4 linked regions of the Homo sapiens genome follow. The protein of the gene in region 1 interacts with the protein of each later gene in a pairwise test. Each region holds a gene or a part of one and is shown on either strand. Other genes may lie near its edges. The genes, in order: GJA1, NINJ2, TMEM128 and TJP1.

What was found.
Region 2: the proteins of GJA1 (region 1) and NINJ2 interact in binary tests that used the Homo sapiens proteins (3 or more experiments, as listed by UniProt).
Region 3: the proteins of GJA1 (region 1) and TMEM128 interact in binary tests that used the Homo sapiens proteins (3 or more experiments, as listed by UniProt).
Region 4: the proteins of GJA1 (region 1) and TJP1 interact in binary tests that used the Homo sapiens proteins (3 or more experiments, as listed by UniProt).

Annotation. Positions count from the first base shown.
Region 1 is NC_000006.12:121,438,646-121,445,645, reverse strand, and holds part of GJA1 (gap junction alpha-1 protein), read right to left. Parts: intron 2,030-7,000; exon of another isoform or gene 1,953-2,029; intron 1-1,952. UniProt on the Homo sapiens protein: Gap junction protein that acts as a regulator of bladder capacity. A gap junction consists of a cluster of closely packed pairs of transmembrane channels, the connexons, through which materials of low MW diffuse from one cell to a neighboring cell.
Region 2 is NC_000012.12:652,899-661,127, forward strand, and holds part of NINJ2 (ninjurin-2), read right to left. Parts: intron 1-8,229. UniProt on the Homo sapiens protein: Its role in unclear. In contrast to NINJ1 paralog, does not mediate plasma membrane rupture (cytolysis) downstream of necroptotic and pyroptotic programmed cell death.
Region 3 is NC_000004.12:4,244,574-4,253,363, reverse strand, and holds the start of TMEM128 (transmembrane protein 128), read left to right. Parts: upstream 1-5,140; 5' UTR 5,141-5,161; coding exon 5,162-5,258; exon of another isoform or gene 5,259-5,738; coding exon of another isoform or gene 5,739-5,763; intron 5,764-7,020; coding exon 7,021-7,162; intron 7,163-8,790.
Region 4 is NC_000015.10:29,713,877-29,722,105, reverse strand, and holds part of TJP1 (tight junction protein 1), read left to right. Parts: intron 1-1,397; coding exon 1,398-1,748; intron 1,749-2,089; coding exon 2,090-2,329; intron 2,330-2,967; coding exon 2,968-3,840; intron 3,841-3,987; coding exon 3,988-4,085; intron 4,086-5,267; coding exon 5,268-5,495; intron 5,496-8,229. UniProt on the Homo sapiens protein: TJP1, TJP2, and TJP3 are closely related scaffolding proteins that link tight junction (TJ) transmembrane proteins such as claudins, junctional adhesion molecules, and occludin to the actin cytoskeleton.

The sequences.
Region 1 (7,000 bases):
ACAAACAAACAAAACCTACTTCAGGGTGTTTTCTCCAGCCAGAAAAGATTGGTTTTCATCTTTCATTGTTATATACTTTAAAGTTCCCTTACTGGGCTTTGGACCCTCAGGCTATACATCCCATTTAACTTCTTATCAATATCTAGCTATCTAAAGTCCACGCCTTCTCCATTACTGAGGATAAGAAAAAGATCTGGCCAGGCGTGGTGGCTCACGCCTATAATGCACTCACGCCTATAAGCACTTTGGGAGGCGGGTGGATCATGAGGTCAGGAGATTCAGACCATCCTGGCTAACATGGTGAAACCCCGTCTCTACAAAAAATACAAGAAATTAGCCAGGTGTGGTGGTGGGAGCCTGTAGTCCCAGCTACTCGGGAGGCTAAGGCAAGAGAATCGCTTGAACCCGGGAGGCGGAGCTTGCAGAGATCACGCCACTGCACTCCAGCCTGGGTGACAAAGAGAGACTCCGTCTCACTAAAAAGATGTAAGTCAGTAGAAACCAACAAGAATCCCCAAAGTTGTCTAGTTCAATTTATGCTTCTAATTGCCGATTATCCATTTAGCTGATAAAAATTGAGGTTCTCAGAGGTTCTCAGGGTATAGGAAATATTTAGCTATAGACAGAGCCAGAAGAAGATTCACAATCCCCGGGCAAGTCTTTTCAATGCCTCACACTGGTTTTAAAAGTACAGTAAGGCTGCGCTAAAGCTAGAAATGTTTCCAGGCTTTGATATACACAACCTTAGCCAGGGCTGAAAGCTGGGAAGAAGTGAGTAACATGATGTGGCAGGCATAGGGAATATAGGCTAATTTTCAGCACATAGTAGTAATTGGAGGATTTAGAAAAGGACAAATTAGTCAAAGATTGTTTAATAATTAAAAACAAGCAAAGCTAAGACTTTGCAGGAGCTTAGTAATGAATTCTAAATAGAGTATCTAAAGGTAGGATTATTTAGGCTTCTTAGAAATATGTTCACTATCTGAATATAAAGGAGTTTCTCTTCTGGTGTTGAACTATTGAGCTGTATCTCCTTGTAGGAAGTAAATGAAATCCAGGGGAGTCTTCTTCCTCAGTAAGCAACATTACATTTCTGTCTAATGACTGCATCTTCTGGCCATAGAGAACAAGAAAAAATGAAATGGGCACCTGACCTGGGATTTCCTGGACCGAACAAAGAAGAGATGGCTGAGCCATAAAGCTAAACTATGCACCAGCTAGATGGTACCACGGTATCATGGGTACATTTGATGACAGCCCAGGGACTAGTGCCAAAGAATGCTGAGTAAGAGTGGGAGGTGGGTGTGAAGGCCACAGAAATAACACTCCCCCAGTGGTCATAAGAAAGGGAGCTTCCCTTTTACTTAGGAAGGGTCATTTTAGATTCTGAAGTGACAAGTTAGGAAGTGAAATTGATGTATGAAAACAGCATCAATTTAAAACAGCAGTCAAATAAGAACAAAGGCTTGAAAGGCTGACAAAGACAGTTGAATAGCCAAGGAAAGGCTTGAAGTGAGGGAGTAATTTAGCCGTGATGGACAGTTTGATGGTGAGAGAATGTGAAAGAAAAAAAAACCCTACAATTTAGCAGAAAATACTAGACTGGAAATGAAGAAGTATAGTCCATGAGGGTCAGACAAACAGAATCTTTGGAGCTATATCAATAGACAGTTTCTATGTGATGATGTGTAAAATTGGCCCTAATTCTGTTTGTAAAAAATTACAGTATTTTGCCAGTGTCATCTGCTTTTGCTCACATATTTCAATTGCTAGGGGAAAAATAACAAAAACAATCAAGTATAAAAAGATAAACTTTGCATACATCTCATCACATTCATGCAACGATAGAGCTGAAGACAAACCTATCATATCTAGAAATATGACCAGGCAGAACAGAAGTTATTTTAGCTAGGATTTCATCATTACTCAAAGTAAAATATGATTGTGTAGATGCTTATAGTAATTCATCACTAAGTTTATTTACATTCTAGTAACAAACTATAGAAATGATCCCTGAAAGTATAGTCTTTATTTACATTCTATAAAAAAATTCATGATACATGACTTTCATATAATTTTGAGATTCTACAAAAACACTCCACAGTTCCATAGTATGTGAACTAAGTCATCAGACAGCTCTTCATTAGTTCTTTTTTAATACTCTAGTAACTTAATTGCAAAGTTGTCTTTTCTTTAAGCACCCATGCAGTTGTCATTTGCATTAATGAGTTATACTCTTTCATCTTAATAAGATACGAATTATCGAATTGGACACCGAGTATCCTGTAACATGTAGCTACCTGTCGATCTCCACTATCATAGATACCATCAAATAATGTTTAATGTGACAGCTGCCCAAAAACAGGTAACAAAAATTGTTCCCTTTTTTTTTGGTAGTTGCTCACTTTGCCATGAATCAAATTTTGGCAACTGGTTGTTCCTCCCTGCTGCACCTTCCCAAACTAGTTTAATATCTTCATTTTTCCAAGTCTTGTATGGTAAGTTAATACCCTCTTATAATAAAAGGGCATAATTATATGTTTACAGAATCCCTGGCATTGATCTACAGACTATAAACTGCACTTTTATTCACCAGGGGGAAACAGGTATATTTCTTATTTGATACATGAGAAGACCAACGCAGCTGGACATATCACATATATTCATGCCTTCACCTCTAGGATACTGAGTTGGTGCTTTATATGTAGACCAAGGTCTGTCTAAGAGGAGTTGTGCAAAGTTCTTGTTAAGAGCAGAGTCTTAGCAGCTGGACCACGCTTTTTGCCGTCTATGCACCATGTTAGATTACATTTCCATTGCTCTTCATGGCCCCCTAGACTGGATGGATGCCCAAAGCTACAGGCACTAAGTGTGACCAGCCTGAGGCTCCTCTGGCCCCTTTCCTGAACTGCATCACAGTCACTTGGCAGCATTTGTTAAAAACATACATTCCTGGTCTTCACCAGTCTGAATGAATCTGAATTTCTGGAGGTGGGGCCTAGGAAGTAAGGTTTTTTTGGTGTTTGTTACTATTCTTGACATTTCTGGCCCTTTCTTGTTCAAAATATTTAGGAGTGGGAGAAATGTCAGGAAAGCAGAAGGAACAGTCTAAAAAATCCAAGGGGCTGAGTACCAGGAGCAGCAGCTCTCTGGGCACCCGGCATTGAGGTCAGCCTTGGCTCCACAGCCCCTTGTCACTCCTTACATCTCCATCTGCAGCTCCCTGAGAGCAGAAGAACTTAAACGCTTTAATTCAAATGAGATCTCTTAAAAATAAAGCTTTGATTTTAAATTACATTTGACTATGCCTTTTGCTAGAGCATGTGCCGAAGTTGCAGTCAAGTCTTTCCATGCCATTAATATACTAATAGTTATTAGAATTAAGTATTTTACTATCGACTTTAAATATTTTTCTCAAGAAGAGACAAATGTAATGAGTTGAGAATGGAGACTTAAATAAAGGTAAATAGGATTATTGAAAACTAAAGTGAAATTTGATATCCAGCATCTTTTTATGATTGAAAGAAAAGAGAAGGTGAAGGACTTTAATATCTGAAAGAATAAAATCAGAGTCTAAACCTACATAAGGAAATGTCTATGGAAGTTCCCGATAAAATCATTTAATGGATTTTTTGGGAGGAAAGGGAAATCATGTGTGTGTCTAATGTACTAACACCCAAAAATATTCATGCCCAAAAACTCAAATGCAAACCCTTGTAATGTTTTCTTTCACTTTTATAATAACCTCTGCCCCTCCAGTAAATGTCATTGAGTGAACTCAGTTGTCTATTCCTCCGCACTTAAAACAGCCACCCTTAGCTTGATCTCAGCCATCATCAGTTTGCTAGGTTTCATGTCATTAGCCTGGTCACCCTACTTGCCAACCTATACTCCGAGTAATCAGTCAATCTTGAGAAAACAAACCAACAATCAGCTTGGTTTGATGAGCTCTGCTCCATCCACGCAGCTCACGTCCTCACTTGTTGCAGGTCTCACCTCATCAGCCAACTTTCCTGACCACCAAATATGAAATAGCAACATCCTTTCCCCAGTCCTGTCATTTCCTATTCCCTTTGCCCTGGTTTTTAAAAAATTATTATTTTAATAGACTTTCTCTCTACTTGATATAGTAAATATTTGCCTGATTACTATGTACCTCCTTCCATGAGAAGGATTTATTATTTGTCTTCCTTAACTGGAATGTGAACAATACGAGGGAGTTTGCTTTGTTCACTGCTGTATCCCCAGTGCTTGAAAGAGTAAGAGATGTGGCTCACACCTGTAATTCCAGCACTTTGGGAGGCCGAGGTGGGAGGATCATCTGAGGTCAAGAGTTTGAGATCAGCCTGGCCAACATAGTGAAATCCCATCTCTACTAAAAACACAAAAAAGTAGACCGGGTGCGGTGGCTTAAGCCTGTAGTCCCAGCACTTTGGGAGGCCGAGGCGGGCGGATCACGAGGTTAGGAGATAGAGACCATCCTGGCTAACACAGTGAAACCCCGTCTCTACTAAAAATAAAAAAAATACAAAAAAATTAGCCGGGCGTGGTGGCGGGCACCTGTAGTCCCAGCTACTCGGGAGGCTGAGGCAGGAGAATGGCGTGAACCCGGGAGGCGGAGCTTGCAGTGAGCCGGGATCGCGCCACTGCACTCCAGCCTGGGCGACAGAGCGAGACTCCGTCTCAAAGAAAAAAACGACAAACAACAACAACAACAACAACAACAACAACAAAAAAGTAGCCAGGCGTGGTGGCGGGTGCCTGTAATCCCAGCTACTCTGGAGGCTGAGGCAGGAGAATTGCTTGAACCCGGGAGGCGGAGGCTGCAGTGAGCAGAGATCACACCACTGCACTCCAACCCGGGTGATAGAGTGAAACTCCGTCTCAAAAAAAGAAAAGAAAAGAAAAGAATTAATTAATTGGGGTATAGCTACATGTTAAATGAATTAAATGGGGCTTCCACAAAAAATAGAAAGATACTGTGCAAAAAAAAAAAAAAAGTTTGTTTTTTTCTGTCTCTTTGGGATTCTCTTAATTGTAGTTATATCTCAAATTTCTAAAGTTTCAAATTAATTAAAAAGGAAACTTCACAGTAAAAAACTATTGTCATCATCTCATTCTCATACTGTTAAATTTTCAAGTGACAATTGCTGAAACAGAGAACTGTTTGTTGAAACAACATGCTTCAAATGATTCCTGAGCAGGCAAAAGAGCTAAATTAAGAAAAAAGGCTCTTTGCAACCCCCACTGCTAAATTTGACAGGCTTAAAAGAAAAAAGAAAAAAGGCTTTTTAACAAAGAGCTTCCTGAATTTGTTAAATGAGATCCTAATGAGGGTTAGGATTCTTGTAGAACTGCATCAGGTATCATGCTTGTACATTCAGTTCACTGTTAGGTTGTTGCAGGTTAAGATTTAAAACACAAAACAAAAAAAAAAAGGAAAAAACACAACTGTGTGGTTGTCCCCTAGTTCTACGATGTTCTAACTCCGATTGCACCACACAATTTTATTGTAGACAAGGACACTATTACAAGAAGAAATAGCCTGTTTAAAATCGTGTTTATTTCAAGAATGATAAATATCGGGGAAGGCTAGGGCTCTGAAGGGGAAGAGCAGCAGTTGATATTAACCCTGGTTAATGTAACATCTTTACAGTCTGAGTCTATGCAGGCACTAAAGTGATTAGATTCAAGTACCATGGAAAAGATTCCCAGTTCATCAGATAATACCCAACCTTTACTTCCTTATTTATACCTAGATGGCCTAACTATAGTGTATCAAACTTACTGTATGTAAAAATATATTTATAAATAATTGCACATTTGTGTAGGTATTTGATGTTGTGAACTGCTTATTTTGGGGGCAGAGGGGAGGACAACATAAAAACACCAACAAGCCTTCCTTCCCCAGCTCTTACCCCTCCTCATCACTGAACTTACATTAGCATCCACTTAATGAGATGAGATGGGAATTGAGGTGTGAGGAACTCCATCCAAAGAGAGGATGGTGCATCCCATAAAAGACAATCCTCTCCCTAGTTCAACAGCTACTACTCAATTCTCCCCCAAAACAAGTTTCTCAAGATCAATTTAGGGCTACCAGAGAGAAAATCCCAAGTCAGAAGCTGAGGCTAAAAGCCATGTTCTTCAATTGTGATGTAACTTAATATATTTCTATCAGTCCTTGGCGTTTCCTCTGCCCCTACTCTTACTTCCACCTCCAAATTGACTATTTTTAGTGAATAGCCTTGTTATTTTATAATCATATAAAGACACCCTTAGGGCCCTCACAAGTGTATTGATTAAGATAGTCTATTTTTTTCAATGAGAATTTAATAAATAACTCATGCATGTGATGCTCTTAGTAACAGCTCAGTAAAGTTTGGTTCTTACTCTTTAGACGACCTTTAGATATAGCTCATTTGGTTTTAAATTTTTCATCTTTTCTTTAGCAAAACAGCAACTAAGAAATGATTGACAAACATACATTTTCTTTTTAAAATTTTTTTTTATAGAGGTGGGGTCTTGCTATGTTGCTCAGGCTGGTTTTAAACTCCTGGCCCCAAGCGATCCTCCCACCTCAGCCTCTCAAAGGGCTAGGATTACAGGCATGAGCCATCATGCCCAGCTGACGATAAACATATATTTTTCTTAAAATATTATTTTAAAAGCATAGGGAAATTGGAATGTGAAATTTATGAAATTGTATAAGCCACTGATGTATTAAAAAAAAAGAGCTAACCACAGTTTGAAAATAGGTAAAAGACAATCTGTACATACATAGTTAAAAGGTGACTTTAGATGGAGGTTTAGACAATTATGCTAAGAATTTAAAAAATATATACATTAATCTCCCATGGAAGAGATGCTCTGGAGATTTTTTAAAACTTGAATTATCCATACAGAATATTACATTAATAATAAACACTAGATAATTACTTTTTCTCTCCAGAGTTGAACTGGTGTGTGCGGATAAGCTCCCACACATCTCTTCAAATAA
Region 2 (8,229 bases), on another chromosome or scaffold:
ATCACGCCATTGCACTGCAGCCTGGGCAACAAGAGCAAAACTCTGTCTCAAAAAAAAAAAAAGAAAAAGAAAAAGAAAAAAATTCATACATTTGTGATATACAAAGTAATATTTTGTTTCTTTTTTTTTTTTTTTTTTTTGAGATGGAGTCTTGCTCTGTCACCCAGGCTGGAGTGCAGTGGTGCGATCTTGGCTCACTGCAAGCTCCACATCCCAGGTTCACACCATTCTCCTGCCTCAGCCTCCCGAGTAGCTGGGACTACAGGCACCCGCCACCATGCCTGGCTAATGTTTTGTATTTTTAGTAGAGACGAGGTTTCACCTTGTTAGCCAGGATGGTCTTGATCTCTTGACCCGTGATCTGCCCGCCTCTGCCTCCCAAAGTGCTGGGATTACAGGCGTGAGCCATATTTTGTTTCTTATACTTAATTGATCTAACAGTTTGTTCAAAATGAACAAATCAAAATATCAACAATATATTTGATTATGTATACTTATGTATATGTTTTATGATGTATACACATATATATGTATACATATATGTGCGTAAAATGAATGCCAGCAATGATACGTGGAACAGGATGGAGGAATTAGGATTGTTTTGTTATCATAAGGTACTCACACGATCCATGAAATGGTATAGTGTTATTTGAAAGTGCACTTGGATTTGTTGTACTTGTAAACTGCAAACTCCAGGGCAATAACTAAAAAAAGTTAAAAAAAAGTACAACTGATACACTATGAATGGAGATAAAACAGGAACATATAAAATGCTCAGTTAAAACCACCAAAGGCAAAAAAAAAAGTGGAAGACAAAAATAGGAGCAAAGAATGAGGGTAACAAATAGAAAAACAGTAACAAATGTGGTAGATCCAACTATATCAGTAATCACTTTGAATGTCAATGGTCTAAGTGCATAATTGAAAGGCAGAAATTGTCAGGATGGACACAAAAAGAAGACTCAACTGTATGTTGTCTACAAGAAACTCACATTAACCATAAAGATACATATAGATCAGCTGAGTGTGGTATCTCACCCCTGTAACCCAGCACTTTAGGAGGCTGAAATGGGAAAATCACTTGAAGCCAGGAGTAAGACTAGCCTGGGCAATATAGTGAGACCCCATCTCTACAAAGAATAAGAAAATAGCTGGGTGTGGTGGTTTGTGCCTGTAGTCCTAGCTGCTTGGGAGGCTGAAGTGGGAGGATTGCTTGTGCCAAGGCATTTCAGGCTGCAGTGAGCCAAGATGGTGCCACTGCACTCCAGCCTGGGTGATGGGTGATAGAGTAAGACCTTGTATCAAACAAAAAAAGACACATACGGATTAAAAGTAAATGGATGGGGTCAGGCACGGTGGCTCACGCCTGTAATCCCACACTTTGGGAGGCCGAGGTGGGCAGATCACCTGTCAGGAGTTCGAGACCAGCCTGACCAACATGGAGAAACCCCGTCTCTACTAAAAATATAAAAATTAGCCGGGCATGGTGGCACATGCGTATAATCCCAGCTACTCCGGACCTTGAGGCAGGATAATTGCTTGAACCCGGGAGGCAGAGGTTGCGGTGAGCCGAGATCATGCCATTGCACTCCAGCTTAGGCAACAAGAGTGAAACTCCGTCTCAAAAAAAAAAAAAAAAAAGAATTATACACCACACCAACTGGGGTTTAGTCCAGGTATGCAGGACTGGTTCAACATTTGAAAATCAATTAATGCTAGGTGCAGTGGCTCACGCCTTTAACCCTAGCACTTTGGGAGGCCGAGGTGGGTGGATCACCTGAGGTTGGGAGTTCAAGACAAGCCTGACCAACATGGAGAAACCTGTCTCTACTAAAAATACAAAATTAGTCGGGCGTGGTGACACCCGCCTGTAATCTCAGCTGCTCGGGAGGCTGAGGCAGGGGAATCACTTGAACCTGGGAGGTGGAGGTTGCAGTGAACTGAGATCAACTATTGCACTCCAGCCTGGGCAACAAGATCCAAACTCCATTTCAAAAAAAAAAAAAGAGAATAAAATAAAAACAAAAGAAAATCAATTAATGTAATTAATCACACCAACTGACTAAAAAAGAAAAATCACATGATCATATTAATAGATGTAGAAAAAGTATTTGGCAAAATTCAACACCCATTCATGATAAAAACTCTCAGTACACTAGATAATTTCCTCAATTTGATAAAGAATATCTACAAAAAGCCTATAACTAACATCATACTTAATGATAAGAAAGTAGAAGCACTCCCACTAAGATTAGAAACAGGCAAGGATGTCTCCTGTCACCACTGCTTCATACATTGAATTTGCATTCAGTATGAACAAGTCTTAGCAGTTTCCCAGTCTTTGCTAGGAAGTCCTAGTAAATGCAATGTAGTTCCTTCAGAAAAAGGAAATGAAGGGACTACAGATTGGGAGTGAAGAAATAAAACTATCTCTGTTTGCAGATGACATGATTGTCTATGTAGAAAATCTAAATGAACTGACCAAAAATCTGCTGGAACTAATAAGCAATTATAGCAAGGTTGCAGGATACAAGGTTAATACATAAAATGCAATCACTTTCCTATGAAACAGCACTGAACAAGTAGAATCTGAAACTTAAAACACTACCATTTACATTAGCACCTAAAAAAGTGAAATGCCTATGTATAAATCTAACAAAATATGTACAATATCTATTATGAGGAAAACTACAAAACTGATTAAATAAATCAAGGAACTAAATAAATGAAGGGGACAAGCGCGGTGGCTCACGTCTGTAATCTCAGCACTTTGGGAGGCTGAGGCGGGTGGATCACTTGAGGTCAGGAGTTCGAGACCAGCCTGGTCAACATGGTGAAACCCTGTCACTACTAAAAATACAAAAATTAGCTGGGCATGGTGGCACGCACCTGTAATCCCAGCTACTCAGGAGGCTGAGGCAGGAGAATTGCTTCAACCTGGGAAGCGGAGTTTGCAGTGAGCTGAGATTGTGCCACTGTACTCCAGCCTGGGTGACAGAGCAAGACTCCATCTTAATAAATAAATAAATAAATTTATAAATAAATATAAAATAAATAGATAGATAGATATTCCATGTTTATGGATAAGAGGACTCACTATAGATTCAAACAATCCCAATCAAAATCAGTTGTGAATATCAACAAACTAATTGTATAGTTAGTTTATATAGAGAAGCAAAAGACCCGCAGGGCGTAGTGGCTCGCGCCTGTAATCCCAGCACTTCGGGAGGCTGAGGTGGGTGGATCATGAGGTCAAGAGATCGAGACCATCCTGGCCAACATGGTGAAACCCCATCTCTACTAAAAATACAAAAAATTAGCTGGGCGTGGTGGTGGGCACCTGTTGTCCCAGCTACTTGGGAAGCTGAGGCAGGAGAATCACTTGAACCCAGGAGGCGGAGGTTGCAGTGAGCCAAGATTACGTCACTGCACTCCAGCCTGGAGACAGAGTGAGACTCTGTCTAAAAATAAAATAAAATAAAATAAACCCAAAATAGGTGACAAAATACTGAAGGAAAAGAACAAAGTCAGAGGACTGACACTACCCGACTTGAAGAATTACTGTAAAGCGGCCAGGCATGGTGGCTCACACCTGTAATCCCAGCACTTTGGGAGGTAGGGTCTGGTGGATCACAAGTTCAGGAGTTCGAGACCAGCCTGGCCAAGATGGTGAAACCCCATCTCTACTAAAAATACAAAAATTAGCCAGATGTGGTGGCGGGCCCCTGTAATCCCAGCTACTCGGGAGGCTGAGGCAGGAGAATCGCTTGAACTTGGGAGGTGGAGGTTGCAGTGAGCCGAGATTGCGCCACTGCACTGTAGCCTGGGTGACAGAGCAAGACTCTGTCTCAAAAAAAAAAAAAAATTACTGTAAAGCTACAATAATTAAGACAATGTGTTTTGGACAAAGAATAGACAAATAGATCAATGGAACAGAATAATGAACCCAGAAATAGACCCAACTGATCTTTGATAAAGGAACAAAGACAATACGATGTAGCAGAGATAGTCTTTTCAACGAATGGTGCCAGAATAACCGGGCATCCACGTGTAAAAATATGAATCTAAGCACAGACCTTCCACCCTCTACAAGAATTAATTCAAAGTGGACTATAAACCTAAATGTAAAATGCGAAACTATAAAACTCATAAATGATAATATAGGAGAAAATCTAGATGACCTTGAATATGCTTACAACTTTTTGTATACAATACCAAAGGGTACAATCCATGAAAGAAATAATAAACTGGATTTTATTAACATTGAAAACTTCTACTCTGTGAAAGGCAATGTCAACAGAATAAGACAAGCCACAGACTGGGAGAAAATATCTGCAAAAGATGCATCTAATAAACAGTTGTTATCCAAAACAGACAAAGAATCTTAAAATTCAACAACAAGAAAATAAGGCCGGGCGCAGTGGCTCACACCTGTAATCCCAGCACTTTGGGAGGCTGAGGCGGGTGGATCACAAGGTCAGGAGTTTGAGACCAGCCTGGCCAACATAGTGAAACCCCGCCTCTATTAAAAATACAAAAATTAGCCGGGGCATGGTGGCGCATGCCTGTAGTCCCAGCTACTCAGGAGGCTGAGGCAGGAGGATCGCTTGAACCCGGGAAGCAGAGGTTGCGGTGAGCTGAGATCGGGCCACTGCACTCCAGCCTGGAAGACAGAGCGAGACTCCTTCTCAAAAAATAAATAAATAAATAAGTAACCCCACTAAATATGGGCAAAAAACCTGAACAGCCACCTCACTAAAGAAGATGCAAAGGTAGCAGATAAGCATATGAGAAGATTCTCCACATCTTATGTCACTAGGGAAATGCAAATTAAAACAAAAATGGGATATCACTGCACAGCTACTAGAATGGCCAACATCCAGAACACTGACAATACCAAATGCTGATGAGAATGTGGAACACCTATTCATTGCTGGTGGACATGCAAAACAGTATAGCCATTTTGGAAGACAGTTTGGCAGTTTCTTCCAAAACTCAACACACTCTTACCATATGATCCAGCAATTGCAATCCTTGGTATCTTCCCAAATGAATTCAGAATTTGTGTTTACACAAAAACCTACACAGGCTTTTTTTTTTTTTTTTTTTTTTTTTTTTGAGGCAGAGTCTCACTCTGTCACTCAGGCTGGAGTGCAGTGGTGCGATCTCAGCTGGCTGCAACCTCCGCCTCCCGGGTTCAAGCGATTCTCCTGCCTTAGCCTCCCGAGTAGCTGGGATTACAAGCACCTGCCACCATGCCTGGCTAATTTTTGTATTTTTAGTAGAAGTGGGGTTTCACCATGTTAGCGATAGCCAGGCTGGTCTCGAACTCCTAACCTCAAGTGATCCACTCACCTCGGCCTCCCAAAGTGCTGGGATTACAGGTGTGAGCCACTGCGCCCAGCTGAGTGGCTTTATACAGAATGATACGTAATGCCAAAACTTGGAAGCAACCAAGATGTCCTTCGGTAGGTGAATAAAATAAACAGTAGTACATCCAGACACTGGAATATTATTCAGTACTTAAAAGAAATGAGCTATCAAGCCATGAAAAGAGATGGAGGAAACTTCAGTGCCATTACTGAGTGAGAGAAGGCAATCTGAAAAGGCTACATATTGTATGATTCCAGCTATGTGACACTCTGGAAAAGGCAAAACAAAAAGTCAGTCATTGCTAGGGGTTCAGAGGGGAAGGAGCAATGAAGAGGCAGAATGCAGAGGATTTTTAGGGCAGTGAAACTTCTCTATTATGCTATGCTATGCTATGCTATGCTATGCTATGCTATGCTATGCTATGCTATGCTATGCTATGCTATGCTATGCTATGCTAATGCTATGCTATGCTATACTATACTATGCTATAGCGGTGGAAACATGTTATTACGCATAGAATGTTTAACACCAAGAGTGAACCCTCATGTAAACTGTAGACTTTGGGTCATAATGATGTGTCAATGTAAGGCTCATCGGTTGTAAAAAAACAATGTACCATTTTGGTGGAGGAAGTTGATAATGGGGAGTCTATGCATGTGGGGCAAGGGGCTATATGGGAGATCTCTGGCCTTCCTTCTCCATTTTGCCATGAACCTAAAACTGCTATTACATATATAGTTGCTATTCTCTCTATATATAACTGCTATTATATATTATATATAATATATATATAATATATAACTGCTTATATATATATATGTCTTTAAAAACAATAAAACAAACAAACAAACAAAAACACTCCCAGAGTACTTTGCCTATAGACCTTCTTCTATTCATAAGTGTTTTTACCTCCACTCCCATCTCATTCTATCTGTATCTCGCTCTACTTAACCTGAGCTATACTGAATTTGCATTCGGTTTGGACAAGTCTTAGTTCCTCTTTTGGCAGATCATCTTCACATTTCCATCAACATGCAGCACAGGTGGAAAAAAAGGGGCCAATAACTGGATCTGCCTGGGGAATCTGGAAGCCCAAGAGGAGCTGCATTTTGGGAAGGAGCCAGGCTAGGGGCTTAAACTCTGTACTTGGGGGTAGGGTTGCAACACTGGCTCGAAGGGGAAGAAAGGGATTATCCTCAACCTTTCACACATCCAGACTCTGGGAGATGCGCAGGCTTAGCTCCCTGGCAGGGCTACCAGTGAAGGCAGGGAGAAGGGCAGAGGCTTGGAGGCCACAGCCACAGGCCATAGAACAGAAGGAGCAGCTCCAGGCATCCAGCTGGTGGAGGCCACCTGCCCTGAGTGCTGTGCGCCACTCTTCACAGCCAGCTGTGCTGCTGCTACCCATCCCAGTCTCACAGGTCTTGACCTGGAGATACATTTGCAACATTGATTATAGAGGCTCAAGTTAATGTTATTTTAGATTAGAGTTTCCCAAACTTCAGTTGTGCCATGTTCAGGGTTTCAACGTCTCAGTGCAGTAGTAGGTGCGGGCACACACACCTGTGATCCATGTCACCCAGGGCTGCCGTACTTCTGAACAGGTCAGACAGAAACAGTTACTAAGACATTGAGGGTATGCCCAGGTCATGTGCAAGGACTGTATAAAGGTGTCAAAAAACTTCCTGCCACTTACTTGAGGCTCATCCTAAGCAATAAAAATGTTGGAATTGCCTGGACATGTGGCTCATGCCTGTAATCCCAACACTTTGGGAGGCCAAGACAGGAAGATCACTTGAGACCAGCAGTTAGAGACCAGCCTGGGCAATACAGTGAGACCCCAATCACTAAAAAAAGAAAAAAAAAATTAGCTGGGCATGGTAGTGCACATGTGTGGTCCCAGCTATTTAGGAGGCTGAGGCAGGAGGATAACTTGGGCCCAGGAGGTTAAGGCTGCAGTGAGCCAAGATTGCACCACTGCACTCCTGCCTGTGTGACACAGCAAGATCCTGTCTGTTAAAAAAAAAAAAAAAAAAAAAAGGAATCACAGGTCTGATAAGTTGTTATGCTTTCTTTCTTTTTTCTTTTCTTTTTTTTTTTTTTGAGACAGAGTCTCAAAAGTGCAGTGGCACGATCTCCGCTCACCACAACCTCTGCCTCCCAGGTTCAAGCAACTCTCCTGCCTCAGCCTCCTGAGTAGCTGGGACTACAGGCGTACACCACCACGCCTAGCTAATTTTTGTATTTTTAGTAGAGACAGGGTTTCACTATGTTGGCCAGGATGGTCTGCAACCCCTGACCTCGTGATCCGCCCACCTCAGACTCCCAAAGTGCTGGGGTTACAGGCGTGAGCCACCTAGCCCGGCCCTGTTATGCTCTTTCTAATGAATACTGAAACTATAAAGATGGCCAGCTATGGTGGCTCACACCTGTAATCCCAGCACTTTGGGAGGCCGAGGCTTGTGGATCATTTGAGGTCAGGAGTGCAAGACTAGCCTGGCCAATATGATGAAACCCTGTCTCTACTAAAAATATGAAAATTAGCCAAGTGTGGTGGTACATGCCTATAATCCCAGCTACTTGGGAAGCTGAGGCAGGAGAATCACTTGAACCCAGGAGGCGGAGGTTGCAGTGAGCTGAGATTTTGCCACTACACTCCACCCTAGGCGACAGAGTGAGACTCCATCTCAAAAAAAACTGTAAAAATAAACATTATAATAAAAAGCTGTCAGCCATTGATGTACCTTTACCACCCATTGGTGATAATTGTACCACATTTTGGGGAAACATTGTTTTAACTAAAGAGTGTTATTGTTTTGTTTTTAGAGATAGGGTCTGGCTCTGCCGCCCAGGCTG
Region 3 (8,790 bases), on another chromosome or scaffold:
CAAGTGATTTTTACCACATAGTATGTCCCCTAAGTGAAAGACACTAACATCGACTGAACACTTTCCATGAAACATGCTTTTCCATTTAGACCCTACAGGGCAAGCCCATTCCAACTCTCTTCATCACATGGTATGAGAAGTAAGAAACAAAACATAGGTATGAACGTATATTGAATATGATCAAACTTAAAAGGTAAACAAATTGGAAAAAAAGTAGACTTGCCACATATTTGAGGTTCAAAGACAGACAGCCTTGATCTATCAAAATATGCAAAAATGAAAATTCCAAAAGGAAAAAGACATATGCATAGTCGATTAACATAAAAAAATCTGTTAGCAAAGAAAAGCAAATTAAAATGGCAGTTCGCCCCGGCCAACAACTATCACTTGGGAAAAATTTATCAAAATGATAAAGCCCGCTGTTGGTGCAAACATTGAAGATGGCCTCTCCTGCCCTCTGCTGGTGGGAATTTAAACTACAGTAGTATGGTAAGTCCTTTCTGGACCTTCTTTGAAAATATCAATCAAAAGTCTTTAAAATGGCCAGGCGCCGTGGTTCACTCCTGTAATCCCAGCACTTTGGGAGGCCGAGGCGGGCGGATCACAAGGTCAGGAGATCGAGATCATCCTGGCTAACATAGTGAAACCCCGTCTCTACTAAAAATGTAAAAAATTAGCCTGGTGTGGTGGCGGGCGCCTGTAGTCCCAGCTACTCAGGAGGCTGAGGCAGGAGAATGGCGTGAACTCGGGAGGCGGAGCTTGCAGTGAGCAGAGATCGCGCCACTGCACTCCAGCCTGGGCAACAGAGCGAGACTCCGTCTCACAAAAAAAAAAAAAAAAAAAAAAAATCCCGTCTCTACTAAAAATACAAAAATTAGCCGAAATTAGCCGGGCATGGTGGCATGCGCCTGTAGTCCCAGCTACTCGGCAGGCTGAGGTAGGAGAATTGCTTGAACCCAGGAGACAGAGGTTGCAGTGAGCTGAGATCATGCCACTGCACTCCAGCCTGGTGACAGAGCAAGACTCCATCTAAAAAAAAAAAAAAAAAAGTCTTTAAAACGTTTGTATCTTTTGATCTAGGGATTCCAATGCTATAGCTTTTACCAGGGGAATAATCACAGCTGTGTAGAAATAGGCACACATTTTATTGTGTTTTTATACAATCAATGGAAGAACTTTTTAAAACTAGCTTTCTTCTTGGAATGAAGAACAGTATCCTAAATGATAGATATTAACATTCACTGAGCACTTTCCATATGCCAGGTACTTTTCTAAGAGCTTTACCTGTATTCTCATTCCTGGAGGCGCTCACAGAATACCTGGGGACCAATGGGGCAGCTACACAGCACAGTGAGAGAACAGGGTGGTACTGGTCTGGCCTCAGAGTTTCAAGTAACAGAAAACAACTGAAATTAAAATTAATTTAAAAAAGGGAAAATTTAACCATCTGTAAAGTCTCAGCAATGGATAATAACAGCTAAGATTTACTGAGAGTTTTCTATGGGCTGCTCTAAAGACTTCGCATGTATTAATACTTTTAATCTTTACCCAATCCTGTGAGGTGGGTATTATTCTTAACCCCATTTTGCAAGTGAGGAAACTAAGGCAAAGAGTGGATAAGATGCTTTCTCAAGGTTCAAAGAGTCAGTAATGACAGGACCGGCAATGACAGCCAGGCAGGCAGCTAGCTCCAGAGCTCAGTTCCTTAACAGGATTAACTAAGGCTTGGCTAGATCTGGGAGGCGGCGCAATGCTACCAAGACCTCTTAGCTTGCCTCTCAGTGCTTCCTTCCCACGTGGGCTCCCATTTCCAGAACAGCAGCCCCAAGCCCAAACTGACCTCAGAGCTCACCATATCAAAGCAACCGTGAACATCTTCCCAGCCTAAGACGTGGAGGATGAGAGGTCTGTTTTGGGTCTTGTGCCCTCCCCTAGGACGGGGTCAGTCTCTGGGATCTGAGCAGGACCACTATAGAAAGCAGCAGTGGTTTCTCAGAGGTAGGCAGACACATGTATATCCATATTGAAGACAAGTTAGCTGTGCTCAAGGACCAAAGTAAGCACAGCTAATGGAGTTCCTGCCGTGTGCTCGGTGTTTGCAAGGTACTGGGGGATACCAAGACATGGTTGTTTCTCCCAATCAACTGGGGGAAACACAGGGCAAAAGGAAAATAACAATAAAGCTTGGTAATTCTTGGAAGAGAGACATGAATAGAGTCACTGGAACCCAGGGACAAGGGAACACTGATCAAGGGGCGAACAGGTGCCGGATCTTGAAGGCCTGGCAAGCCAAATTACTAAGAATAGTAACTACTGCTGTTTGGAGGCAAACTATGTATGCCAGGCACTAAGCTAAACAATCTGTATACATGTATCTTCACTCCAATACCCGATGTTTCACAGATGAGCAAACTGATACTTAGAACAATAAAATAACTTGCCCAAAGACCCACAGTGATGGAGGCAGGATTTGACAGTCTATACACACCTTGGATTTAACTATGTTGCTAAGGGGGGGCCAGTAAAGGTCACAATGAAATTCATTTGTTCCCCACAAGTAATCCACATTGAAAATGAAAATTTCTTAATTGGTAGCAAATCTGGTATCACATATCTATCTATAATTAGGGTGCCACAGTACACACATTGAAGGGTTTCTTTTCTTTTCTTTCTTTTTTTTTTGAGACAGAGTTTCACTCTTGCTGCCCAGGCTGGAGTGCAATGGGTGGTCTTGGCTTACTGCAACCTCCACTTCCTGGGTTCAAGCCATTCTCCTGCCTCAGCCTCCCAGGCAGCTGGGATTATAGGCGCTTGCTACCATGCCCAGCTAATTTTTTTTTTTTTTTTTGTATTTTTAGTAGAGACGGGGTTTCACCATGTTGGCCAGGCTGGTCTCAAACTCTTGAGCTGAGGTGCCACCTGCCTCAGCCTCCCAAAGTGCTGGGATTACAGGCATGAGCCACTGCACCTGCCCAAAGGGCTTCTTTAATGGACCTCAGAAATGAAGATGTGGTCATTAAATACTGGAATTTTTCCAACCTCCTTTTAAGTATCATCAATATGCTGTGCAAGTAGTGCCATTTAAAATTGCAGAGAAAAAAACTCTGGAAGGATTTCAGATCCAAATTCAAAGGCCCCGAAACCACAAAAGGAGAAACCTGATCTGACCTGAACATACCATGTATGGGAACCTGGGATAGCGGCGATGCTCTTGGGAGTATTCAGTTACCACGGAGGCCCTGCACTGACCCTTTTTCGAGGAGACAATCAACAGAAGATTGTATTTGATGGGACAAATTCACTTCCTGTTAACAAGGCTTCTAACCCCGTACGAGAGAGAAGAGAGGGCAAAGACTTCAGTTGACTTTGAATAAATGAATCCAGTTCTTTAGGAGTCTTGAAAGAAAAAAAAAACAGAAAAAAAAAAACAGGATAAAGGAGGTATTGTTTAGAAAGGCCATATGATCCACCCAGCTGTTAAATCCTGTGCTCCGAAGGGGGAAGAAAGGCTGAAGAAATGATAAATCAGTAGGGATTTGGTATTTCTCTCTTTTTTTTAATTTTTTTTATTTTTATTTTTGAGAGGGAATCTCACTCTGTTGCCCAAGCTGGAGTGCAGTGGCAGGATCACTGCAGCCTCCTTCTCCCAGGTTCAAGTGATTGTCCTGCCTCAGCCTCCAGAGTAGCTGGGATTACAGGTGCCGGCCACCATTCCCGGCTAACTTTTGTATTTTTAGTAGAGACGGGGTTTCGCCATGTTGGCCAGGCTGGTCTCAAACGCCTGACCTTGTGATCCGCCCGCCTCGGCCTCGCAAAGTGTTGGGATTACAGGCGTGAGCCACCGCGCGCGGCTGGCACTCTTTTCTTGAGTATTTCTTATTACATTCCTTTTACAAACACCCCAACACATCGAAGATATTAAACAGTGCCTACTAATTCAAATTTTACTTCCTATGTAGCTGGCTCTCCACCCCTGTATTCAACTCACCTGAAACCACTCTCCCTGCTCTCCCACACTGCAGCAGAATAAACTGCCCTTTATATGTACAGTGTTTCTATTATGCCCCATGTACAGTGTTTTTATTATGGCACTGTATTGAAGCTGCTTCCTCTACTAGATTCTTCTGTCCTCACCATTTTATCACATGCAGCTGCTCAGAAAATGTTGGCTGCATTGATGAAATGCTTTCATACATTTACAAATAGAGTTTTCTTGTAATATACCTCTGTGGTTTTCTTTGGACAAGGAGCTCCTCACGTGCAAGGCCATGTCTTACTCATCTTTATCTCCACTGCTAGCATGGTGCCTAACAGCTCCTACCAAATAGTAGATGCTCAGTAAACGTTTGCGTGGCTAAGCCCACCATTTCTCAGCACATGACACGCTGGGAAACGGCTGGGAGAGTAATACGCGGGATTATTGACGAAGAAAAAGTTGTGAACTCGTAACACACAGTTTGTGGGCGTGAGCAGTGTGGAAAACCGCAGTTTGCTGGGAAAGCAATTTAGTTCCCTCGGTTCAGGCTGGGAGGATTTTTCACAAGTGGCGAGGAGGAGGCTCACATGAACCACATACAGGTACTTCTCACTGAAACGCACAACAAATCTAGAGCCAAGTGTAATAACGAAACGGGCCCCAAGAAGTTTATTTAATGCCCAGGGCCCCCAAGTGGTCACTGCCAGGCTCTAGCATCCTGTCCAGCAGGCCTTTCTCCTCCTTTCAAGTCTTGCTGGACGACTCCTGAAAAGCAAAAGTAGGAAAAAAACTGGGGGCTGAGAGTGGAAGGCTGGACAGAGGGTATGTCTCCTGCTCTGGCACCCGGAAGCCTGCGAGGGCTTCGGAAGCGCAGCGTCTCACGGTCGCGCATCCCGGCCCTGGACGCATCCAGCGGCAGCGGTAATCCTGGTCCTCCTGGGCTTCCGTAGGTCGGAATAAACTTGGGAACTCTTCCACCGGCAAAGCTCAGTGTTTTAAAATTCAAATCACACTTGCCGACATGAGAGCGGAACCTTTGAGGCCGACTCCACCCTAGCTGCTCGCTAACTAAACAGCGAAGAGAACACAGTCTCCAATCCAAACGCCAGGAGGTCCAGACCCGGAGCGGACGCCGGAAGCGCTGTGTCTGACGTCACTTCCGTCGCATTTCGGGGCGGTACCAAGATGGACTCCTCGCGGGCCCGGCAGCAGCTCCGGCGGCGATTCCTCCTCCTGCCGGACGCCGAGGCCCAGCTGGACCGCGAGGGTGACGCCGGGCCGGGTGAGGCGCGCACCAAGCCGCCCCGAGGTTCTCAGAGGCGAGGCGTCGGAAAACGGCCGGCCTCCGGCAGCCCTGGCCCAGTCTGGAAGGACTGAGTTTCGGCTTTGCAAGTCGAATATTTAATGTCAGGGAAGATCCTTAGAATCGCGGAGTGCTGTGCATCGTCATTTCAGCTGCGCTTCAGAATTCTCTGGAGAGCTGATTTGACACCTATTTGGAAATAGCGATTAAAATTAAAAATACCCACCAGTTTTAAGTCTTAAGGATTTACCAGAAACATGCGTGTACCGCAGTGTACAATGATGTGCGCAGTGTTTCACTTCAGGATTGCTTGTAATAGCGAATTACTGGAAATATCTGCCTTGCCCGTCAGCAGAAAGCTGTTTAAGTAAATTTGGGTATATGTATACCTGACACATCAGGTCGACTCGTATGTACCAATGGGGATGATTTTCAAAGGGAAGTGTGGAACACTATGGTATGCCGCCATTTGGGTACAAAACAGGTAACTTGTGATGTATGTTCACCTGTGAATGCATAGAATATGGAAGAATTCAGTAGAAATTGTAAGTGGTGGTTGCTTCTGGGGATTAGATCTGAGGTTAAGGATGGGAGACAGATACTTCATTTTGGATATTTTTTATCTCATATGTTTTAAAACCACGTCCATTTATTACCTTTTAAAATTAAAAACACGAATAACCTCATGCCCAGGCATGATGATGTATACATTTTGAGGATATCCCAGAATATTACGAACATGCTTCCCAGGGTTTCCGATGGTCATCTAAAGGCCCAAAACCTCAGATGTGGACCATTGATTCTCACGTGAACCTAGAGGGCATGTCAGAATCCCCGGAAAACTTAATAGAAATCATCCATCTGACCCAACCCCCATCCACCCATTCTTTCAGATTGCGTTCCAGACAGGAAAAATGTCTTGTCCATCACCTGTCTAGACAGTGCTGTGCTGGAACTAGAGCTCTGGTGTGCCGTTTCCACTTTTGAGCTGTGTTTAAAGTAACTAAAATATTTAGTTATAGGCTGGGCAGGGTAGCTCACGCCTGTAATCCCAGCACTTTGAGAGGCTGAGGCGGGCTGATCACGAGGTCAGGAGTTCGAGACCAACCTGGCCAAATAGAGCAGCCTGGCCAAGATGGTGAAACCCCGTCTCTACTAAAAATACAAAAATTAGCCCGGCGTGGTGGCAGGCGCCTGTAATCCCAGGTACTCGGGAGGCTGAGGCAGGAGAATTGCTTGAACCCGGGAGGCGGTGGTTGCAGTGAGCCGAGATCAAACCATTCCACTCCAACCCGGGCGACAGAGGAAGACTCCGACTCAAAAAAAAAAAATTTAGTTATAAAAGTGTTCTTGGAAGACCACAAGTCCAGTTCATGCGCTAATGTTTGCCTTTGGCATTTTTCCTAATTAACAAGACTAATTACTTTCCTAGAAGAAATGTGAAACATAATATTAAAATTCTTACATTTCCAGGTGACATTGTTATTTCCGAAAGACGATGAAAGTGTAAATTTGATTTCACAATGTATTTAGAGGAAATAAATTGACTGTATTGACCATATTTTATAGTGGGCTCTTATTTTTTGTAAATATAAACCTATCTCAAGGGTTTTACAGAAGGATTTGTTATCATGGGAGAGACTGTTTCTTAGCTCTAGGAAATGATTTTATTTGGCTTAAGTGTAATTTTTCCTCGCAAAATTGTGGTAACTTAATAAGTTGAAATCTCCCTTATTTGCAGAAACCTCCACAGCTGTTGAGAAAAAGGAGAAACCTCTTCCAAGACTTAATATCCATTCTGGATTCTGGATTTTGGCATCCATTGTTGTGACCTATTATGTTGACTTCTTTAAAACCCTTAAAGAAAACTTCCACACTAGCAGGTAAGAAAATTTTATTGCTTTGTAAATTAAACCCAAGTCTGATTTTTCGTGTTATATTTTGTTAGTTGAATTCTTCAAACAGTAAGCACCTACTACTCTCTGCCAGGCCCTGTGTTGGAGGTGTGGTGATACGAAGATGAATATGAGATGGGGGTCAAAGGGTACATATTTTTAGTTATAAGATGAATAAGGTCTGGAGATCTAATGTACATACAGTATAGTGACTATAGTTAATAAGGCTGTATTGTATACTTGAAATTTTCTAAGAGTAGGTCTTGTGTCCTCCCCCTGTTACCCCACCAGTGGTAACTATGTGAGGTGATGAGTGTGATAATTAACTTGATTGTGGTAATAATTTCACAATGTGTGTGTGTGTATATGTATACACGTATATATATATTCATATATATGTATATATGTATATATTCATGTGTGTGTGTATATATATATCAAGTCATCACACTGTATACCTTGAATATATAAAATTTTAATTTGTCAATTGTACTTCAATAAAGCTGGAAAAAATAAAACCAATGAGAGGGTGTGTGCTCTGGGCACATACAGTAGAGTGGAATAGAACTGGAAATTATTTGTGTGCAAATAAATGTGTTGTAGGATGAGGAAGGTAGTAAATTTAAGAAGAACCTAATCCATTTGGGGAAAAGAGGGAGAAAGACTGACTGAAGGTCTTCAAAGACCAAGTACAAGAGTACTGGGAGGAAGAGCCGAGAACTGTGGCCAGTGGGAATTGGGTCTCAGGGTTGGTTTCAGAGGGTGGTTACAGCTGACAAGGTAACTACAGGGTGTAACTGTGTTAGAGTGGAGGTGAAGGTCCACAGTGGGAGGAGTGACAGCTTTGTGGCCAGACCAGATGTCCAGTAGTTCCTCATTCACAGGGACTGAGATCCTTTCAGTATAGTCTCCAGAGTTGACATGGAGGAGAGGGTTGGAATCATATCCTAGGGTCCTTACTGCACATTGGAGAGTGATGTGGAGACCCTTGGATAAGAAATGGAAGGGAGAGGTATGTTGGTGAGCATCATGGCATTGGGAGGGCTGGTGTGCTTAGGGTCAAGAGTAATAATTTGGAAGTACCAGTGGGGGTAGGAAGATGCAGACAGGACTGTGGTCCCCTCGTATCATGGCAGGACACATGATTTCTCCTCAAGGGCCTTCAGGAGGAGCAGTGACTTCTGGCGGAGGAGACTGTCGAGCCACAAGGAAAAAGCCCACAGGGGAAAGTAGGCAGAGGGGAGTTTATTTAAACTGTCCTCTACTTTCTAGGGGAGAAACTTTCCCTAAACACTCCCATCTTCTGCCCCTCCATGTCACTCACTCCTTTGTGGGAGGTGGCGTGACTGATTGAGTGTGTGATGAAGAACTGGACAAAGGTAGCTCAGCACCTTCTTCTGCTGCAAGTCGGCTGCCCATAGGAAGCGCAGAGTCTGGTCTGCCTTCCCATGGTGTCATTCCACAGGGGCAGTCCCCACAGGAAAAGGTCTCTAGGTTTTCATTTTGACCTGGAACCCAGTGGGTAAGGCTGTTTCTGGGTGTCAGAGACCCAGTATTAGGAAGTGCTTTGTCATCACTCACCAAAGCCATATTCTTCCCACGGCTGCATCAGTATA
Region 4 (8,229 bases), on another chromosome or scaffold:
TTTTTACTGCATAGCCAGGCTGCAAATTTTCCAAACTTTTATGCTCTGCTTCACTTTTAAATATAAGTTCCAGTTTCAGATAATCTGTTTGTGCACACATATGAACACATGCTGTTAGAAGCAGCCAGGTCGCATCTTGAATGCTTTGCTATTCAGAAATTTCTTCCACCAGATACCCTAAATCATCTCTCTCAAGTTCAAAGTTCCACAGATCACTAGAGCAGGGGCACAGTGCCACCAGTGTCTTTGCTAAAGCATAGCAAGAATGAATGACCTTTACTCCAGTTCCCAGTAAGTTCTTCATCTCTGTCTGAGACCTCCACAGCCTGGACTTTATTGTCCATATCACTATTAGCATTTTGGTCAAAACCATTCAACAGGTCTCTAGGAAATTCCAAACTTTCCCTCATTTTTCTGTCTTCTCTTGAGCCCTCCAAACTGTTCCAACCTCTGCCCATTACCCAGTTCCAAAGCTGCTTCCACATTTTCAGGTATCTTTTTGGCAATGCCCTACTTCTCTGGTACCAATTTACTGTATTAGTCCATTCTCACACTGTGATAAAGAACCACCTGAGACTGGGTAATTTATAAAGAAAAGGTTTCATTGGCTCACAGTTCTGCAGGCTGTACAGGCTTCTGCTTCTGGGGAGGCCTCAGGCAACTTACAATCGTGGCGGAAGGGGAAGGAAGCATGTCTTATATGGCTGGAGCAGGAGGAAGAGAGTTGGGGAGGTGCTGCACACTTAAAAAAACAGATCTTGGGAGAATTCTATCACAAGACTGTGTGAGGGAGATGGTGCTAAACCATTAGAAACCACCCCCATGATCCAGTCACCTCCCACCAGGCCCCTCCCCCAACACTGGGGATTACAATTCAACATGAGATTTGGGTGGGAACACAAATCCAAACCATATCAGTTGTTTCCTAAACATAAATATATTAGCTCTTATTCAACTTTTGAACTGTTGGGTTTATTTCATAGGTATTCTTCCATGTGCTATTCTGTCAGTGTGTCCTTGTTTCTGTGAGCTTAGTTTGGTAACATTCTCCCTCTTCCCCTTGCTTAAAAGGGCTGAAGAGCTAGTGAGTAGGTTTTATAAATCTGAGCAGTGTCAGAGTTTCTTCGTTGTCTTCCAGGGCTGGGCCCTGGAGTCTAACTTTGTCCTGGCTTACCGGCCACTGTTTCCTTCATCCATGCCCTTCAGATCTCAAGGGGTGCTCCATGTGTCTGCGTGTGTGCTTGTACAATCTTCTTGACTTTTCCTTACCAGAAGTTTCAAGAAGTAGATGTGACTTCTCCAGAGAAAGATATCCTTTTCAATCTGCCTTGTACGATAAAGGCCATCTCTTAAAGAACTACTGAATAAAATTTGTAATTTACTTTTATTTGACCCAGGCGGATGGTGCTACAAGTGATGACCTTGATTTGCATGATGATCGTCTGTCCTACCTGTCAGCTCCAGGTAGTGAATACTCAATGTATAGCACGGACAGTAGACACACTTCTGACTATGAAGACACAGACACAGAAGGCGGGGCCTACACTGATCAAGAACTAGATGAAACTCTTAATGATGAGGTTGGGACTCCACCGGAGTCTGCCATTACACGGTCCTCTGAGCCTGTAAGAGAGGACTCCTCTGGAATGCATCATGAAAACCAAACATATCCTCCTTACTCACCACAAGCGCAGCCACAACCAATTCATAGAATAGACTCCCCTGGATTTAAGCCAGCCTCTCAACAGGTAAGCAGCAAGCATTCAACGTTTTGTAGATAGAGGTGCATTATTAAATTTTAGAATGTGGTGATTGAGTTAAAAATATATATGTTGTCCTTTCTCCAGATTAAGAATTAATCTTCAATTTCAATTTGAGAGTACCAAGGGCTTAATTCTAAATTTTGTGTGTTTGTCTTAACACAGCAATGTACTGGATTTTTTTTTTTTCCCAAAAAGTTTAGGACATGAGGTCATAATTTTGTTATTCAGCACACTTAAAATGTATGTCTACCAATCACTATAAATTGAAGTGGAAAGTTAGCAGTAAACAGAAACACTATATTTAAAATATTTTAAACACTTCACAGAAAGCAGAAGCTTCATCTCCAGTCCCTTACCTTTCGCCTGAAACAAACCCAGCATCATCAACCTCTGCTGTTAATCATAATGTAAATTTAACTAATGTCAGACTGGAGGAGCCCACCCCAGCTCCTTCCACCTCTTACTCACCACAAGCTGATTCTTTAAGAACACCAAGTACTGAGGCAGCTCACATAATGCTAAGAGATCAAGAACCATCATTGTCGTCGCATGTAGATCCAACAAAGGTACCTGTGCTGCGGTGTTGCACTAATTTGTTGCTGTCCATCAATCTGGCACATGATCATTTTTGCTTTGCCCTTTAAGTGTTCCTTTTGCTTTTTTACTGCAGGCTTATACACTGTAATGCTTTCAAATCAATACAAATCATTTCAGTTTCGTAGTTTGCATGGCTTCCATTGGTATACTGATTATTTGAAAACAGGCCTTTTAATTGAGATTTGTGCTTATTATTTTTATTTTTGGCTTTCAGTATCTTCCAGAATTCCTTAATATGTAATCGAAACCCATCATAAACATATTTATGTTAATACAAATTATGATGCCCATAAATCTTCTTTAGGATTTTTCAGTGTCAAAATGAAGTGTAATCAATAGTGCATTAATTTTCTACTAAATTTAATATTTATCTTTAACTCACTGTTTATTTAGTACATGCTGAAACATAAAAGCCCCTACCTGCATTATAAATTTTGAGCTTTCACTTAAACCAGCTTTTTCCACTAATCTTGTCTATCCTGATAATAAATGGTAAAACATACCATTTTCACATATTAAATCGTAGTTTAATATTTAATCACAGTCTAATAAAATAGACTAGAATTAGAAACAAGACTTTGTCCTTAAATGTGAATTTTTTATACAGGTGTATAGAAAGGATCCATATCCCGAGGAAATGATGAGGCAGAACCATGTTTTGAAACAGCCAGCCGTTAGTCACCCAGGGCACAGGCCAGACAAAGAGCCTAATCTGACCTATGAACCCCAACTCCCATACGTAGAGAAACAAGCCAGCAGAGACCTCGAGCAGCCCACATACAGATACGAGTCCTCAAGCTATACGGACCAGTTTTCTCGAAACTATGAACATCGTCTGCGATACGAAGATCGCGTCCCCATGTATGAAGAACAGTGGTCATATTATGATGACAAACAGCCCTACCCATCTCGGCCACCTTTTGATAATCAGCACTCTCAAGACCTTGACTCCAGACAGCATCCCGAAGAGTCCTCAGAACGAGGGTACTTTCCACGTTTTGAAGAGCCAGCCCCTCTGTCTTACGACAGCAGACCACGTTACGAACAGGCACCTAGAGCATCCGCCCTGCGGCACGAAGAGCAGCCAGCTCCTGGGTATGACACACATGGTAGACTCAGACCGGAAGCCCAGCCCCACCCTTCAGCAGGGCCCAAGCCTGCAGAGTCCAAGCAGTATTTTGAGCAATATTCACGCAGTTACGAGCAAGTACCACCCCAAGGATTTACCTCTAGAGCAGGTCATTTTGAGCCTCTCCATGGTGCTGCAGCTGTCCCTCCGCTGATACCTTCATCTCAGCATAAGCCAGAAGCTCTGCCTTCAAACACCAAACCACTGCCTCCACCCCCAACTCAAACCGAAGAAGAGGAAGATCCAGCAATGAAGCCACAGTCTGTACTCACCAGAGTTAAGATGTTTGAAAACAAAAGATCTGCATCCTTAGAGACCAAGAAGGATGTAAATGACACTGGCAGTTTTAAGGTAAATATGTCTTTAGTGCCTTGGATGCATGGGCACACCGTTTAAAAGGCTTCTTGGCTCTCCCCTCCGCCATTACATGATATCTATTCTGTTAATTATCTGTTCCTTAGGCATATTTGTCTTTTTTTTTTTTTTTTTTTTAAACAGCCTCCAGAAGTAGCATCTAAACCTTCAGGTGCTCCCATCATTGGTCCCAAACCCACTTCTCAGAATCAATTCAGTGAACATGACAAAACTCTGTACAGGTGAGTACACTTTGTGCTCTTTGTGGCATAGAACTGACCAGGAATTTAACCCTCTTAGTCAATAAGAAAACCTTTTACTGTGTTAGTAGAGGAGAGGTGTGAATAGGAGGAGTTTGTCCTTAAATAAAAACTATCAGCTCTCCTAAACAGTGATTCTAGGGGGAAAAAAAGTAGAACTTTATTTCTGACAAATCTGACAAATCTTTATACCTTTAGCAGACTTTCGGAAAGATATTCTCCAAGCAGATGATTAAATAAACATTTTTAAGCTCTGACATTTGTATTATGTTTTTTAGTTTTAAAAGTGCTTTTCGACATGTGAACTCTTAGTTTCCAGTGGTGAGGAAACAGACTCAGATTGGTTAAGATAACTAAATCATTTAGTGAGCATGCATAAGGTGCTTGCCCTTGTGCTAAGCACATCAGCATAATGAGGTGACACTGTTGTTGTTCTGCATTGTAGAGAGAGACACTGAGGCTGAGAGGGGCAAGTAGCTTACAAGACTTAGAGCTGGAAGAGAAACCTGGCCTGCTGCTCCTCAGCCTGAGCTTTTTCCCATGGCCTCATTGCACTGCCAATAAGTGACAGATTAGATTTGAATACAGCTCTTCTGATTTTGTTTTTTGACTGAATATATGTTTGCACTTAGGATAAAGAAGAGAACTGTCTAATATGAATTTACTTAATGACTTGCTTTCTTCCTCATCTGCTTTGTATGCCTTCTAGAACTTTAGACCATATAGAGTTATTTGTTCATATGAGAATCATTGAGATCCTGGACTGAGTTCTTAAAAATCCCTTTGAAAGTTCTTAAAGTCTATCATTTACTGTTCTTGACCTTGGTATATGTACTTCTCAAGATGTTCACTGTCTCGGTTACATTGCCCTTTGTCTTTCTGATTAACTACTTCTAACCTGCTGTTCCCTAATCATGTAATCGTTTAGCTTATTATATTGTGTTAAAGGACTCATGAGCCAGAAGGGGGCTGCCTTTTGAGTATACTCTGTGAGGACATGGGATTTGAAATATCCATTTTAACTGTTGGGACTGCTCAGATCCTCAGTAATCACAGCAGTTAGTAATTATTGACCTTTTAGTCAAGATAAGACTTACATATTCTACTTCCTTCATAACATTAATATTTAAAAAGGTGTTCCGTTTGTCATTCATTATCTGTTAGGATCCCAGAACCTCAAAAACCTCAACTGAAGCCACCTGAAGATATTGTTCGGTCCAATCATTATGACCCTGAAGAAGATGAAGAATATTATCGAAAACAGCTGTCATACTTTGACCGAAGAAGTTTTGAGAATAAGCCTCCTGCACACATTGCCGCCAGCCATCTCTCCGAGCCTGCAAAGCCAGCGCATTCTCAGAATCAATCAAATTTTTCTAGTTATTCTTCAAAGTAAGCTATTTCACCTGGCTTTTAAAAATAGGATGCAGCATATTAATCCCGTGCAGTTCAATATATTTTGAAGAAAAATAATTTAAGTGTAATATATGATTTCTGTAGGCTCTAGTGGTTCAGCATTGTACATACTTTTTAGTTCTGGGATGTGTGTTTTGTTTTTAAAGTCTGCTATTAGATGTACATAGTTTTTGCATTCACAAAGATGCTAACATCACAGGGTTTTGACGGAAGACAGTGTCAACCACAAGGACCCTCATCGATAGGTAATCATCAGTCTTCACTTCTGTACACACACCTAATGATGTCATGCTGGTTCTTTTTCTTTTCTGTTTTTATTTTTTAAATATAAATACAGATGTGAGGAGGATCCTGTTTGAGGGAAATACTGAAGAGGTTTTTTGTTTTTTGTTTTTGTAAGATTTCTGATCCAGTTTTACAGGTGAGGGAAAATGACAGGGCAGAGCTGGGACTGAACCCCAAGTTTCTTGACTCCCAGTCATCTTTTCCCTGTGCTTGCTGCTCCCCTCCGTTTACTCATCCCTGGGTTTCGTGTTGGTTTGTTCTCCTTTCTTGTGCCTGCGTGGGTTTGTGTCTCCTACTGGTTCTGTGTCTCTGGTTGAACCCTGACTGATAAGAGAATTTGGTACTGATAGTTGTGTCTAAGCCCACACGGGCACACAGGTAGATTCATACCTCAATAGAACAAAACCCACAAGAACAAAAACAGATGTGGATTTGTCAAAAGAAATTCATTTACACAGTTACAGGGGCTGGCTAAGCAAGTCCTATTTCAGAGGGCAGTTGGTCAGGAAGGGAAGATTTTGAGCTACTGGGGAGTGTGAGATCAGGGAAGGCCTAAATTCTCATTCAGAGGGCTCTGCTGATTAGGCCAGGCCCTCCCAAGACCATCTCCCCTCAACTGACTTGGGGACATTACACCTGAAAAATCCCTTCATGGCAGTACCTAGCCAGATTGACATATTAGAATTCATCACACATAGTATTGTGTCTATATTAAAAGCACCTAGATTTTTCCTTACTTAGTTGCGTGGGCTTGGGATTATCTTGGGAAATGACCTATTTGTCATTTACTATTGAGTGTAAATTGTTTTAGAACATACTTTAAAACCACTAACATTAAAACCTAATTTTAATTACCACTGCTTTTTTCTAAGACATCCTTTGTAGTGAAGACTTTTTTCACTGTCCTATATTTAAGGCTTTATGTTTACAGAAGAAAGCAGTTTATGAGAATCCAAATGCAAACTGAGAGTGCTGCAGTGGGGGTTGTATTAAATGCAAAACGTGTCTTGTACTAGTGTTGTGAACCACCCCTTAGCACAACACTAGAAAGGGGTTGTGGCATCTAGATGGTGTCTGGACTGAAGTGAGCTAGCACAATATAAACCCACACAGGTGCACAGCTGGGTTCATACCTCAACAGAACAAAACCCACAAGAACAAAAACAGATGTGGATTTGTCATTAGGAATTCATTTACATTTACAGTGTTACAGGAATTCATTTACACAGTTATCACAGTAACATCTAAATGGTGACTAGCCTAAAGTGAGCTAGGCACTGAGCCATAGGAGCTCACCTTTGGTAAGGCAGAAGGGTGTACCCTTTAGTTATTATTTTTACTAAACACCGTTAAACACATTCATTCCTGTCAGAAGAAGGCTCAGGTGTTTAGTTTAAAGATATCTCTTATTTATCGTTTTACATATTTGGTAAATAGAATACAACCTTAAAAAGATTATATGGCCAGGCGCAGTGGCTCGTGCCTGTAATCCCAGCACTTTGGGAGACCAAGGCAGGCTGATCATGAGGTCAGGAGATCGAGACCATCCTGGCTAACACGATGAAACCCCATCTCTACTAAAAATACAAAAAAATCAGCGGGGCGTGGTGGCGGGCTCCTATAGTCCCAGCTACTCGGGAGACTGAGGCAGGAGAATGGCGTGAACCCGGGAGACAGAGCTTGCAGTGAGCCGAGATCGTGCCACTGGACTCCAGCTTGGGCAACAGAGTGAGACTCTGTCTCAAAAAAAAAAAAAAAAAAAAAGGCTGGGCGCAGTGGCTCACGCCTGTACTCCCAGCACTTTGGGAGGCCGAGGTGGGTGGATCATGAGGTCAGGAGATCGAGACCATCCTGGCTAATATGGTGAAACCCTGTCTCTACTAAAAATACAAAAAATTACCTGGGCATGGTGGCAGGTGCCTGTAGTCCCAGCTACTCTGGAGGCTGAGGCAGGAGAATGGCATGAACCCGGGAGGCGGAGCTTGCAATGAGCCGAGATCGCGCCACTGCACTCCAGTCTGGGCGACAGAGCCAGACTCATCTCAAAAAAAAAAAGGAGTATATTTAGGTCTAAAAAGTAAGTTGTTTTGCCAGGGAATCAATCAAAATGCATGTTTGCTTTCTGTGTTAATTTGTTTTTCTAGAAAGAAGACTTAGCTTATTTGTGATGTATAACTTTAGGGTGTAGAACATTGCCTTGCATGCAGTAGGGGCTCAGTAATTGTTGAGTGAATGAAGCTCAAAACAGGGCATGGTATACTAGGTGCATCCACCACCCTTCTTTTCATTAACACAGCTCTGGAAGGAACCTGTATTACCTGGTCATTGTTTTCACAGGGATATATTGTGAAACAGATGACATCTGTCTTTGTGAATTTACTCAGAACTCAGTTTGATTTTACTCCCTGCTGCTGTGAGAGAGAAA